4 linked regions of the Homo sapiens genome follow. The protein of the gene in region 2 interacts with the protein of the main gene of each other region in a biochemical or structural test. Each region holds a gene or a part of one and is shown on either strand. Other genes may lie near its edges.

What was found.
Region 1: the proteins of RAB3A (region 2) and OCRL interact in a biophysical measurement, tested with the Homo sapiens proteins (one study listed by IntAct).
Region 3: the proteins of RAB3A (region 2) and MYO5A form a complex in vitro, tested with the Homo sapiens proteins (one study listed by BioGRID).
Region 4: the proteins of RAB3A (region 2) and SYTL5 form a complex in vitro, tested with the Homo sapiens proteins (one study listed by BioGRID).

What each region holds. Positions count from the first base shown.
Region 1 is NC_000023.11:129,557,241-129,560,814, reverse strand, and holds part of OCRL (inositol polyphosphate 5-phosphatase OCRL), read right to left. Parts: intron 3,491-3,574; coding exon 3,380-3,490; intron 2,955-3,379; coding exon 2,865-2,954; intron 2,183-2,864; coding exon 2,062-2,182; intron 1,976-2,061; coding exon 1,814-1,975; intron 266-1,813; coding exon 164-265; intron 1-163. UniProt on the Homo sapiens protein: Catalyzes the hydrolysis of the 5-position phosphate of phosphatidylinositol 4,5-bisphosphate (PtdIns(4,5)P2) and phosphatidylinositol-3,4,5-bisphosphate (PtdIns(3,4,5)P3), with the greatest catalytic activity towards PtdIns(4,5)P2.
Region 2 is NC_000019.10:18,198,639-18,201,091, forward strand, and holds part of RAB3A (ras-related protein Rab-3A), read right to left. Parts: intron 1,808-2,453; coding exon 1,689-1,807; intron 212-1,688; coding exon 87-211; intron 1-86. UniProt on the Homo sapiens protein: The small GTPases Rab are key regulators of intracellular membrane trafficking, from the formation of transport vesicles to their fusion with membranes.
Region 3 is NC_000015.10:52,371,838-52,375,411, reverse strand, and holds part of MYO5A (unconventional myosin-Va), read left to right. Parts: coding exon 1-108; intron 109-3,048; coding exon 3,049-3,288; intron 3,289-3,574. UniProt on the Homo sapiens protein: Processive actin-based motor that can move in large steps approximating the 36-nm pseudo-repeat of the actin filament. Can hydrolyze ATP in the presence of actin, which is essential for its function as a motor protein. Involved in melanosome transport.
Region 4 is NC_000023.11:38,012,979-38,016,552, reverse strand, and holds part of SYTL5 (synaptotagmin-like protein 5), read right to left. Parts: intron 1-3,574. UniProt on the Homo sapiens protein: May act as Rab effector protein and play a role in vesicle trafficking. Binds phospholipids.

The sequences.
Region 1 (3,574 bases), on a different chromosome or scaffold from region 2:
TAGGTATCTGTTCATTTCTGTTCTCACAAATTTGACCCGCAAGTTAACTCTCGTGTATAGTCTACAGTAGGTTTTACCAACAGTCTTTTTTAAAAAAGGCAAAACATCATGTAAATGAACACCAAACATATAGCCAAAAGGAAATTCCAGAAGTGTTCTTTACCCAATGCAGTAGATATCAGGAGGATTGGGATCACAGTTCAGCCAAGGTTCTAACCCGCTATCTGGAGACTGGCCATTCACATTCCAAGTTCCAACAAAAAATCTAATACATAATACGAAAAGATAATTTGAAAACAAAGATCAAGTATAAACCAACAGAAGTTCTTTCTTTTCGCTTCCATACAAAGGTATGTTCACAATATGCTAACATAATTCCTCAAAATGTTTTGCCACATATGTAAGAAAGATCTTTTGCATCTAGAACACAAAGGCAGTGGGCTTATTTTCTCTAAATTTTACATTAAGTAAAACTACAGAAGGAAACCAAGTCTTTATTTTTAAAAAATGCAAAGGTAATTGCTATACCACATTTCCTTTCAATTAAGCTCCATCCAAACTCATACTTGATAGGAGAGCTTATGGATGGGAAAGAGGTATCTTCATGCTGTAAGCTAGTCAAATATGGATAAATGTTCTATAAGGGGCTATAGTTGACTCCAGGAACTCACTTCCTGAAGGATTACAAGGACATCTGTGTAGGAAATTCTGATGAGGCAGACATAGTATTAAGGGGGAAAGCAGAAGGGAAAACTCATGACTGTCTTAACTGTTTACACACAAATATAAGCATAGTGGGGGATATGAGGAACTGCAAGTTTTAGCATAGGGATATAGTTATGACTGAATTAGAATAAATGAGGTATGACAGGATAGCAGATGGGACTAGAATCTTGGACTAGAAGGGTACATTCTGCTCATGAATAACAAAGAAATGTGGTGTTGCTTCATGCATTGGCGATACATGCCACATGGTACCTCACATGCAGCATACACACACAAGTCCAGAAAAAAGATGAAATAAAAAATAATACAGATAAAAGAACCCAAGATAGACCTCCCAATCAAGAGGACTGGGTGAAACTTTCTTTATTTACCAAAGTAAGTAAGTTAAGAGCTAGTGGTAATGATGGACTTTAATTTTCTAATATTGGCTGAAAAAAAAAAACTTAACAGGCCAGATATATAAACACGCTTGCTTATGGAATGTGCTAGGGGAAAATTCTCTAGTACATGTGACCTTGATTTGGTTCTCTAGGACTCAGTAGAGACATTAGTAGACATGGCATTATTAGTAGTTAGAAAATCCAAGGGAAGGCCAAGCACGGTGGCTCAAGCCTGTAATCCTAACACTTTGTGAGGCCAAGGCGGGTGGATTGCCTGAGCTCAGGAATTTGAGACCAGCCTGGGCAACCTGGTGAAACCCAGTCTCTATAAAAAACACAAATATTAGCTGGATGTGGTGGTGTGCACCTGTAGTTCCACCTACTTGCAGGGCTGGCGTGGGAGGATTGCTTACGACTGAGAGGTTGAGGCTACAGTAAGCCATGATCTATCTGCTCTCCAGCCTGGGTGACAAAGAGAGACCCTGACCCACACACACAAAAAAAGAAAATCCAAGGGAAACTGTAGCATCTGCATTATTTCTGATATGCATGTTATTGGCCAGCATAGAGACAGGAGCTTGAAACAGGCAACCATTCCTTTTTATCATATTTTGATTCTTAATTAGGCTAATGTCTTAAATATCAACAGGCCACTGTCTGTTATATATACTAACTTTTTAGACTCAGGAAGCAAAAGAGACACTAACCTGAAAGTCTGAATGTTGACATATTCTTTCTCTCGCTTTGCCAGGATATGTTTGATGAGACCCTCCCGCTGCCCAGATTGGGTATTTGGTACAAAGAGCTTCCGCATGGTGTTGGTCACTTTGGGCTGCTCCTTGTTAGAAGCTTCTTTTTCACGTGGAAGCCTAGCAAATAAATGAGAGATTCAAAAGTAAAATTGTTTAAACTATAATTCTCCTACAAGGCAAATATGTTTTCACATGGGACTTACATTTTATTCACTGAAAAGGGTGGAGGTGGGGGTTCCCGATGAATCCCAGTAGGCTGATTTTGTGAATTTATTTTCTTGTCCAAATTCATAGAAGAAAAATTGTCTTCAAATCCAAGAAGCCCTGAAAGACACAGACCCCAAAGTCAAACGGGGAAAAAATCTAACATCCAACATATCCAGGGTAACAGGGCTTTGATTTGATCACAATTTGATCAGTGGTATTACTAAACAGAAAACTATCATAAGGGTAGAAATTACTTGGATTGGAGTTCGAAGAAGCATACCTATCCCTGAAGCACTGATATACTAACTAGAACAATAGAAGTTTATAAGAACTTGGAACAGACTAGTAATAGCTAACATTTATTGAAGACTGAGCACAATGCCTGGTTGAGAGTAAGGGACTATATCATGATCTCACTTAATCATCACAAAAACTCCAAGAAGTAAGTACTATTAAAAATCTTCCCATATTACAGAAAGGAAAAGGGAAGTTCAGAGTTGTTGAGTAACTTGATGAAGGTTGTACAACTAGTAAGTTCTTGACTTGGGATTCAAATCCAGGCTGTCTGGCTCTCGAGCTTGTACTTTCTACCACCCTGCTAAGCTGGCTCCTGAACAGCTACCATGCTACAGGAAGGATAAGGAGTGAACACTGGTCAGTGGGCCTGGACTTGATAAAACTACTCTGCAGGAGAATGTGTCTGACATCAGCTTTAATCTACATCACCATATTTGGCCTGACAAAATCTACTGACTCTGCAATGACCATAGCAACAAGGAAACCAGGAACTTTTTAGTACCTGAAAAAACAGAAGGTTTGTCCTTAGTGTCTAATTTCTGGTACCAGCTAGATGAGTCCTTTTGCTCTGGAACAAGAAGCTGTGACTGAGCTAGAGAGATAAGGTTCATGGTCAGAAACTGGGAAGTCTTTCACTGAGTAGAATTTACTATAGCCAAAAGCCATTCTTTCAACATTCCTTATATGCAGGGGCCAGCACCATTTTTGGATACAGTGGAAGAAACTAAGGAAATGAGGGCAGCTCTGGGGTCATCTAGGGGCAGAAGGAGAATTATAGTCTATGGTAAGCTGTGCTTGCCATGACACTGAATATTCTGAAAACTTGCCTAGTGTCCTTAAAGCTGGGCAGATTTTTTCCCTAACCTATCCCTGTGTTCACTCCTGAAGAAAAAAAAATCAGCTATCAGGGCTTAAAGGGTGAGGTATTTTGCCAATGGCCACTTTCCTCTGTATCAGCATGTCAGAATTCCACTCCCGTTGAAATAGAAGAAAGAAAATCGCTGAGTCTTTAGTTACCTTTCTGAGCAGCAAGGACAGCTGAGAGGAACTTCAAACAGTGTTCCTCATCAGGGATTTCAAAGCGGCGCTCTCTGATCCAGTCCCCCTGAACCCGAATTTTGCAGCCACCTAAAAAGAATTGAAATCCATACATATACTGCTATGGGATAAAATGTTTTACTGGGATCATATTCTCAACTTATCAGGTTAACA
Region 2 (2,453 bases):
AGCTGTAAGACCTTGGGTGTGTGCCCTCCCCTCTCTTAGTGTCCTTTTTCTAGACTTGTGGGTCTCCAGCCCAGCTGGGCACTCACCAAGGTGGTCAGCTAGCTGCCGGCCACGTTCTGATGACACCACCCGCTCATCCTCCATGTCACACTTGTTTCCTACCAGCAGCACCTGGGCATTGTCCCATGAGTAGGTCTTGATCTGGGTGGACCTATAGGAGGCACCAATGGGGGCAGGTCAGGGCTTGGAGGATCCCAGCTCCACCCTGACGGGCTGATGTGGAGCCTGTGTCCTTGTCCGAGGAAGAAAGACCCAGAAGCTTGCCCCTCCATCCTCCCCACCATCCTTTCCCCCAATGTGCCCCGCTTTCACCCCACTCCAGCCCCCGACTGACCCATTATTGTTTCTGTGTTTTGGGGTTTTTTTTGAGATAGAGTCTGGGTCTGTTGCCCAGGCTGGAGTATCTGCCTGCCTTCGCTTCTCAAAGTACTGGAATTACAGGCATGAGCCACCCAGCCCAGAAATTTTCTTTTTTTGAGATAGAGTCTTGCTCTGTCGCCCAGGCTGGAGTGCAGTGGCGCGATCTAGGCTCACTGCAATCTCCGCCTCCCAGGTTGAAGTGATTCTCCTGCCTCAGCCTCCTAAGTAGCTGGGACTATAGGCATGAGCCACCATGCCTGGTAATTTTTTGTGCTTTTAGTAGAGACAGGGTTTCACTATGTTGGCCACGATGGACTCGAACTCCTGAGCTCAAGATCTACCCACCTCGGCCTCCCAAGGTGCTGGGATTATAGGCATGAGCCACTGTGCCCAACCCAGAAATTTTTTTTTAAAGTTATTACTTCTGAGCAGAAAATTGAAATGTTTACAATCTCTAACCTATGCCAACTCTCCTTTTTTTTTTGAGACAGAGTTTTGCTCTTGTTGCCCAGGCTGGAGTGCAATGGCAATCTTGGCTCACTGCAACCTCCACCTCCCGGGTTCGAGCGATTCTCCTGCCTCAGGCTCCCAAGTAGCTGGGATTACAGGTGTGCGCCACCACGTCTGGCTAATTTTTGCATTCTTAGTAGAGATGGGGTTTCTCCATCTTGGTCAGGCTGGTCTCGAACTCCCGACCTCAGGTGATCCACCTGCCTCAGCCTCCCAAAGTGCTGGGATTATAGGTGTGAGCCACCGTGCCCGGCCATGCCAACTCTCCTTATAGTCTCTATATTCTCCACCCTACACTTGCAGATATTTGTTTCTATATGGTTATAGTTTTACTTTTCCATCTGAAATCCTTCTCTGACCCCTACGTTTTATTTATTATTTTTTGAAGAAAGTTTGGCTCAGAGACAATGGCCCCAGAATGAGTGTGGAAGGCCAGAAGCGATGGCTCACGCCTGTAATCCCAGCACTTTGGGAGGCCAAGGTGGGCAGATCACTTGAGCCAAGGAGTTCAAGACCAGCCTGGGCAACATGAGGAAACCCCATCTCAACTAAAAATACAAAAAAATTAGCCAGGTGTGGTGGTATATGCCTGTAGTCCCAGCTACTTGGGAGGCTGAGGCAGGAGGATCACTTGAGCCCAGGAGGTCGAGGCTGCAGTGAGCCCTGATCGTGCCACTGCACTCCAGCCTGGGTGACAGAATAAAACCCTCTCTCAAAGAAAAGAAAAGAAAAAAAAAGAGCAAGTGGGGTACACTCACCAGTCCTGCACTGCATTGAAGGATTCCTCGTTGGTGATGTCATACATGAGGATGAAGCCCATAGCGCCCCGGTAGTATGCGGTGGTGATGGTCCGGTACCGCTCTTGCCCTGCTGTGTCCTAGGGAGGAAGAGATGAAGGTCAGAGAGGACCTGCACATAAGGCCCTCGAAGAGGAAATGAGCTCTGATATCATCCAGTTCAGCCCCCTGGGAGAAGCAGGAGCTTGCCCAGGGGCACAAAGTGTCAGGAAGAGCAGGTTGGGTCACCAGTGCTCAGAATATATGAGTGCTCCATTATTCCACAGAGTCATTCACCAAACGTACTGTGCCAGGTGCTGTGGCTCACACCTGTAATCCCAGCACTATGGGAGGCTGAGGTGGGCAGGTGGCTTGAACCCAGGAGTTCCAGACCAGCCTGAGCAACATAGCAAGACCCCATCTCTACAAAAAGTACAAAAATTAACAGGGTGTGGTGGCTCACACCTGTAGTCCCAACTACTCAGGAGGCTCAGGTGAGAGGGTTGCTTGAGCCCAGGAGGCAGAGGTTGCAGTGAGGTGAGATCGCGCCACTGCAGTTCAGCCTGGGTGACAGAGTGAAACCCTGTCTCAAAAAACAAACAGGGGGTCGGGTGTGGTGGTGGCTCACGCCTGTAATCCCAGCACTTTGGGAGGCCAAGGCAGGTGGATCACCTGAGGTCAGGAGTTCGAGACCAGCCTGGCCAACATGGTGAAACTCTGTCTCTACTAAAAATACAAAAATTAGCT
Region 3 (3,574 bases), on a different chromosome or scaffold from region 2:
TACTGGCGCATGTATGTGGTCCGCAGGAGGTACAAGATTAGACGAGCTGCCACTATCGTTCTTCAGTCTTACTTGCGAGGCTTCTTGGCCAGAAATAGGTATCGCAAGGTGAGGCATTATTTTCAACTTTGTTTATTCATTCTATTAGCATTAACCAAATTTCACATCTATACAGAGTACCACAGGGGCTACAATGAAGGTAGGAACTGTATGGGGACAACCAGCTATTGAAATGCATATTTATTTATTTTAAAAAATTCTTTTTTAGAAATAGGATCTCGCTCTGTCACCCTGGCTGGGGTGCAGTGGTGCAGTCATAGTACACTGCAGCCTCAAACTCCTGGCCTCAAGCAGTCTTCCCACTGTGGCTTCCCAAAGTGCTGAGATTATAGGTATGAGCCATTGTGCACATGCCCAGCCTGAAATGCATTTTAAAATACTAAATAATCACATACAGTTATTAACAAAACAATGGGAAAAAAACTTTTACCTCCTTCTTTCTCTTTGTTTATATAATTTGAAAAAAAAAGTATGTTAGTTTACTGTGGCTGCTATAATAAATTATCACAAACTTGTTACCTTAAAACAGCCAAAATTAATTCTCTCAGAGTTCTGGAGACCAGAAGTCCAAAATCATTATCAATGGGACAAAATCAAGTTGTCAGCAGGCTGCTCTCCTTCCAGAAGCTCCAGGGGAGAATCCATTCCTTGCCTCTTGCAGCTTCTGGTGGCTGCCAGCATTCCTGTGCTTGTAGCCACATCAGTCCAGTCTCAGCCTCTGTTTTCACAGCATTTTCTCTTCTGTGTATCTGACTTGACTTCTCCTATCTGCCTCTTATAAGAATAATTATGATAGCATTTGGTTCCACCCATGTGATCCAGGATAATCCTCCCATCTGAAGACCCTTAACCTAATCACATCTGCAAAGGCCCTTTTTCTGAATAAATAGCATTTGCAGGTTCCAGGGATTAGCACCTAATTTCCTTGGGGCCCCCTATTCAGATGACTACAGAGAACTTTGAATAGATAGAATATATGACAAACAGGTTAAAGGTTATTCCAAGAATGAGACAACCTTGGAAGAATTTACCATGGTGAAGAGGAGGCAAATTATAACATTAATGTGGTTAAAATTGTATTGACAGATACAATGCTCCAAAAGTTTTTGACAAATAATCTTACATCTAGCAATAATTAATGGGGTCACCAGAGTAGTCTTAATTATCACCTGTGACCATTGATGAACGATTTTTATCTCTTTCATTTTGGCAAGGTTTGGAGTCTATCCTACAGGCTATATTTCAAATCAGTGAGAAATACAAGCCTGGATATTAGAGCTCTATGGACATCACCATTAGAAGGAGCATTAATGGGGTGATTTGGGTCTCTAAGCACAGACAGTATATGGGTGTGACCTAGGCCCTATTTATTTATTTATTTATTTATTTATTTATTTTTATTTGAAGTGATTTTAGACAACAAAAAATTCGAAACTGGTGAGGCTTGAATGAGTGTATTTAATAGCTGTGTTTTGAAGATAGCTACTCCAGATCTTTCTGCTCACCCCTCCTTTATGTAGTCTCATGCTCTTTCTATATAAGCGTGAGATTTTAGGGAGGAAAGAGGTTTGAAGTTGCTTTTCAGATACACCAAACTAGTTACCTTCCTGTGTTCCTCACTACTTTCCTTAGGAACATCTGAGCTGGGTTTTGAGGTCACTGGTTTAGCAGTGGCAGCCTCCGGCCAGCTCAGGCTCCCACTGTGACTGGACAGGGTGGAAGGTGGTAGCGTAGAGGCTTGCTCACATGTAAGCCAACAGCCATCACATTAGTGCTCCTTCTAGCTGTATTTCAGGTCCAAGGTTCCCCTTCATGAGATTTGGAGTGGGGGGGTCTTAAAGAGAGTACAGGTGTTGATTAATTTCTCTCACTCATGATGAAAGTGAGATTGAAAATGGAAGCTCTGATTAAATGCTGTTTCCATTTGACTAAAATTACAAAAATGGACCCATGTCCAAAGTTACATGGGAGAAGCAAATGGAACAGGAAAATTGGCATTAATAGTTTTATTTATCCAGTCACTGTGCCTGGCTACCTCTTCTTAAAATTCAAGAATTTCTTCTCCATCTTTCCTAGAAAATGTTTACACGGTGTCTTTTTGGTGCTCTTTAGCGACAACAAATTCATCTAATAAGGCAAACTTTTGTTTGTTTATAAGTTTAGGGAAATATCATTTTTTTTTAGGAAATGTAACATAAAATCAAAAGTAAGATTAGTTTGTTTCACATCTTTTTACTTTTACCTTTCATTTTAAAGCCCCATCCCTCCTACCTTTGAATCCCAAAAGTGGATCCTTGCTACATTTGAAATAGCAATGGAAAATCCTCACTAGAATGGTATTCCTCAAATGTGGTAAACAAGAGTGTCATCTTTTAGTTTCTAAAAAAAAAAAAAATCAATAAATCAGTACAAACTTTTTAGTACCCCAAGTGTTGGCCTCTACAGACAGTTTGCTGCCCATACCCCGTGTCCTCATGCACGGGCCTAATAATGCATAGTGAGGTGGTATCAGCAGTCAGGGTGGTGGGGATATCTCTTATTTTAGTAGCACATAGTTTACAGGATGCCTGGTTCTGTTAATTTTATAGAGGATCATCTGTTGCCAACAGAAATCATATACTAATAAGAAACCTAATGTATTTTTTCTTTCTTTTTATAGTTGTTTTTCTTTTGGTAATCTGGTGCTTTTTATTTAGACAGCTTCCAACTCTATATTCTGCTTAGAATTATACACATAATATGTGCATATGACACATTTTTATGTATGTTTCTGAAATCACCTTCTAAAGTCTACTTTTCAAATCACTTTTAAAAATAATTTTGTAGCCTCCATATATCTGTGATAAGTATAATCTACATAGTACATTGTCAATTCAACTTTTATGTCTTTTCCTCTAGGTAATGTGTGGATTTTCAGCCCGACATAGATTGATAATCATGAGTGTAGTCCAGGGTCTTGACATTGCTTGCCCTTATCCTTTTCTGCAGATACTCCGTGAGCACAAAGCAGTCATCATTCAGAAGCGAGTCCGGGGCTGGCTGGCCCGCACACACTACAAGAGGAGCATGCATGCCATCATCTACCTTCAGTGCTGCTTCAGGCGGATGATGGCCAAGCGTGAGCTAAAGAAGCTCAAAATCGAGGCTCGCTCAGTGGAGCGCTATAAGAAGCTGCACATCGGCATGGAGAACAAGATCATGCAGCTGCAGCGCAAAGTTGATGAGCAGGTGTGTTTCACAAAGGGGCCCTGAGAGTGGAGTATGCCTGAAGAAATCCACCAGGATTATTTTCAATATTGTTTTTCTTTGACTTTACCCTTCGGTCTTAGTAAAAAGTAAAATTATGACCGTATTTATTTCCATAATGGGCATGGAAGTACTTATGAACTCATAAGGTGGATCACAATTGCAAAAACTAAGGCAGGAAGTTATTATTATTATTATTATTATTATTATTATTATTATTATTATTACTATTATTTGAGACAGGGTCTCACTCTGTCGCCCAGGCTAG
Region 4 (3,574 bases), on a different chromosome or scaffold from region 2:
CTCTAGGGAGATGTATTTTTAAACTAAAAGTGAAGTTGACCCTCATCTGCCCAGATTTCTCCTCTAGAGGAGGAGTTATACATAAATATAGCCAGCTTGCTGCCCCTCATACTTGGTTAGGATTCCTATAAGTCTGATTGATAATGTCATGTCTGCCACATGTAGCAAGGAGCTGTGGAGAGTAAGATGAACAACATTTCTGCTCCTTAAAGGTGGCTTTCCCCCATGGTCTATATTAGAGGTTGGCAAACTTTTTCTATTAAGGAACAATTAGTAAATATTTTAGACTTTTTGCGCCAAGAGCCAAAACCATAGCTATTTTGTGGATAAGTATGCATCAATCAAGAAAATAAATGTCTGCCAATATTTTACCGATGACATTAAAAATATAACAATAATAATTGAGTGCAGTTATTTCATAGCATAGATCTACTAAAGAGAAGAATGGAATTTTAGGGCACATAACATCTAACTTAAAGTGAGCATTCCTATCATTAAAATTAATGATAGTAGGCCTAGCGCATTCCAGAGCTACTGAATTTGAATCTAAATTTTAACAAGGTCCCCCAGTGATTTGTACCTTAAAGTTCAAGGCCATTCTGGTCTAGAGTTTCTTAATACATTTTTGGCTTATATTTTTATCACTTTAGAGAAGATAGTGAAAGCTGTGGATCCTAGAAAAAGTTCACAAATCATTTGAAGTTCATTCAAGACTCCTACAAGGTCTGTGGCTTTGAAATTAAGACCCCAGGGATTCTGTGGACATGCCCGCCCAGAGCGAAAGTGTTCTGAAATTAGATTGTGGTGATGGCTAAACGCACTGTGAATAGACTAAAAAAAAAAAAACATTGAATTGTACACTTCAAATGGGTGAATTGTACAGTATGTACATTATATCTCACAAAAGCTGCTTTTCAAAAAAACAGAATCTCTTGAGTTTGTGTTCCATGGATTTTTTTTAACGTCCTATGGGGTTCCAATGGACACCTCAAGTGGAGAATTGCAAAGAGTCAGGTTTTGGAGTCAGGAAGCTCTGCATTCAAATCCTAGCTTTGGCAATTACTATGTTACAGAAACTAAGTTACTTAACCTCTCTGAACCTTGGTTTCTTTTCATACAGGGTGGAGATAATAATAGTACTAACTTCACAGGGTTTTGAGGAGGATCAAAAGGAACTTCTAATGCAAAATTCCTGGAAGATTCCTTGTCACATGCACTTTTTCATGTGAAATGGTGGGATTCCTCAGATATCAAATGCAAAGCCAAAAATAATTACATGCTTCGCATTATTCAAGTCGTAATTAATCACACATGTCATATTATCCATGTTGTACTATATTTTCCACTTAAATGTATATTTCCTGCTCCATTATTATACTTGCCTTAATGCTTTTTCCTTATGAGTCATGGTAATAATGATAGTGAACACTCAGCACTTATATACAAGTTTCAGGCCCTGTTATGAATTCTTGATTTACATATATGAACAGTACAATCTTTACATTGTGAAAGGAAAATAAATCTCTGGACCCCAAAATCACTAAGCCGAAGGGAAAAGTCAAGCTGGGAACTGCATTGGGCAAACCTGCCTCCCATTCTATTCCTAAATAAGATACCTACAAAGATAAAAAAGCTACATACCTCCCTCACAATTTTTCTCACAGGGAAATTTCTTGTGGACAAAGGACAGGGAGAACTCAAAGTCATCCCTCTGTCACAGAAGACAAATGTGTATCTGATTGCTTCCTTTGCCCTGTTTTTTCACTAAGCCAGACTAAGGCATAAGTGACTATTCCTGTAAATTGTGCTTATCAAAATATCAAAAGAATGCAACCATTTGTCTCCTATCTACCTGTGACCTGGAAGCCCCCTCCCTGCTTAGAGTTGTCCCGCCTTTCTTGACTGAACCAATGTTCATCTTACCTATACTGATTGATGTCTCACGGCTCCCTAAAATGTATAAAACCAAGCTGTGTCCCAATCACCTTGGGCACATGTCGTCAGGACCTCCTGAGGCTGTATCACTGGCACATCCATAATCTTGGCAAAATAAACTTTGTAAATTGATTGAGACCTGTCTCAGATACCTTTTGGTTTACAATATCAATTATTTGATTTAGATACTTTCACTATTCCCATATTACAGGTAGGAAAACCAAGGCAGAGGGAGGTTAAGTAACTTGTCCAGTGTTACACAGCTTGTAAGTGGTGAAGCTGGATTCTGACTAAGGGGTCTGACTCTATTGACTGTGCTCTTGACCACTATAATATACTGTAGAATTAAATATACATACATATAACATATATGTACACACACAACAATATTATATATAACATAATATACAACATAACACACAGGTGTGTGTGTGTGTTTAATTTTGTATTGGTCAAATTTATACCAGTGCCCAGCACTCCTGCTTTGGAGGGTACACACTTGTACATACCAAAAGAGTTTTATTATGACAGTGTAGAGAGGATGTAGGATATGACATCAGAGCAGATTGCCCTGACTAAAGAAAGAAATAAAAGCTGAAACAGTAGTCAGAGTGTGGAGAGGGTAGAGAGGAAAATGAGATTGGGGAGGTCCTGATGCTACCTGGCTCCTGTGAGCAGGAATGGGGGAGCTAAGCTAGGAGAGGAGGAGTTGGTGGTGGTTGAGGGACTAGGAGGACTGAGGGGGCCAGTAGATCTAGGGGCCTTGAGTAATGATGAGGGGCCCAAAGAATGCAGGGTCCCCTTAAGAAAAGATCATGGAGAGGAAACCAATCAGTGAGATGCTGGAGATGGGGTGAGGTCAGTGACAGGTTCGCAGATACCAGTATAGATTGAGTGAGCCTGAGAATCAGGAAGAAAGGTAAAAATTGGTGCAGCAGGAAAAAATACCCCAGGAAGATGCCTTTGGAAGTTACTTAAGCTGACCAAAGTGACTCTGGTACAAAGCAGGAACTCTGGTTTAAATCTTGGCTCTAAAATTTCTGAGAAACATGACTGAACCTCTGTATGCCTTGGTTACATAGAAAACACTTGAATAGTTCTTGAGTCACGGTAAATCCTCAGAAAGTGTGAGCCTTTGGCATTATCATTAGGAGCAGTACTGAACCTACATTTCATGTTTGCTGACCCAGGTTCAACATTTTTCCCAGTATAAGCAGTGAAAGATTATCACTAGATGATATTCTCACTGTTCAGGAACCTACTCTTTAGGTCTGAGTTGAGCCAATATTTAGTTATATCCTATTGTGCTTAAGTATAAAGCCATACATATGACTATTATTCACAAGAACAATAAGAGTCAGATGGGAATTCACTTGAAAGAAAATCAATAGCTGTTTGGTTGTTGTGTATAACTGATTTAGAAATAACCTTCCTGTGTTTGGAGCTCAAACTCTGTAACAGTCAACAAAAATAATTAGATGGCAGCTGTGAGTAGTTCAAAGCAAATTAAATTCTTCCTTCTTGAACATGGCTAATGCAAACAGGACATCCCAATCTATATTTTTTCCATATTAATGTCTGGACTTCCTTGTATTTAAGATCAATAGTATTCTCCCTGTGCTGGTCTCTCAATTAGTGG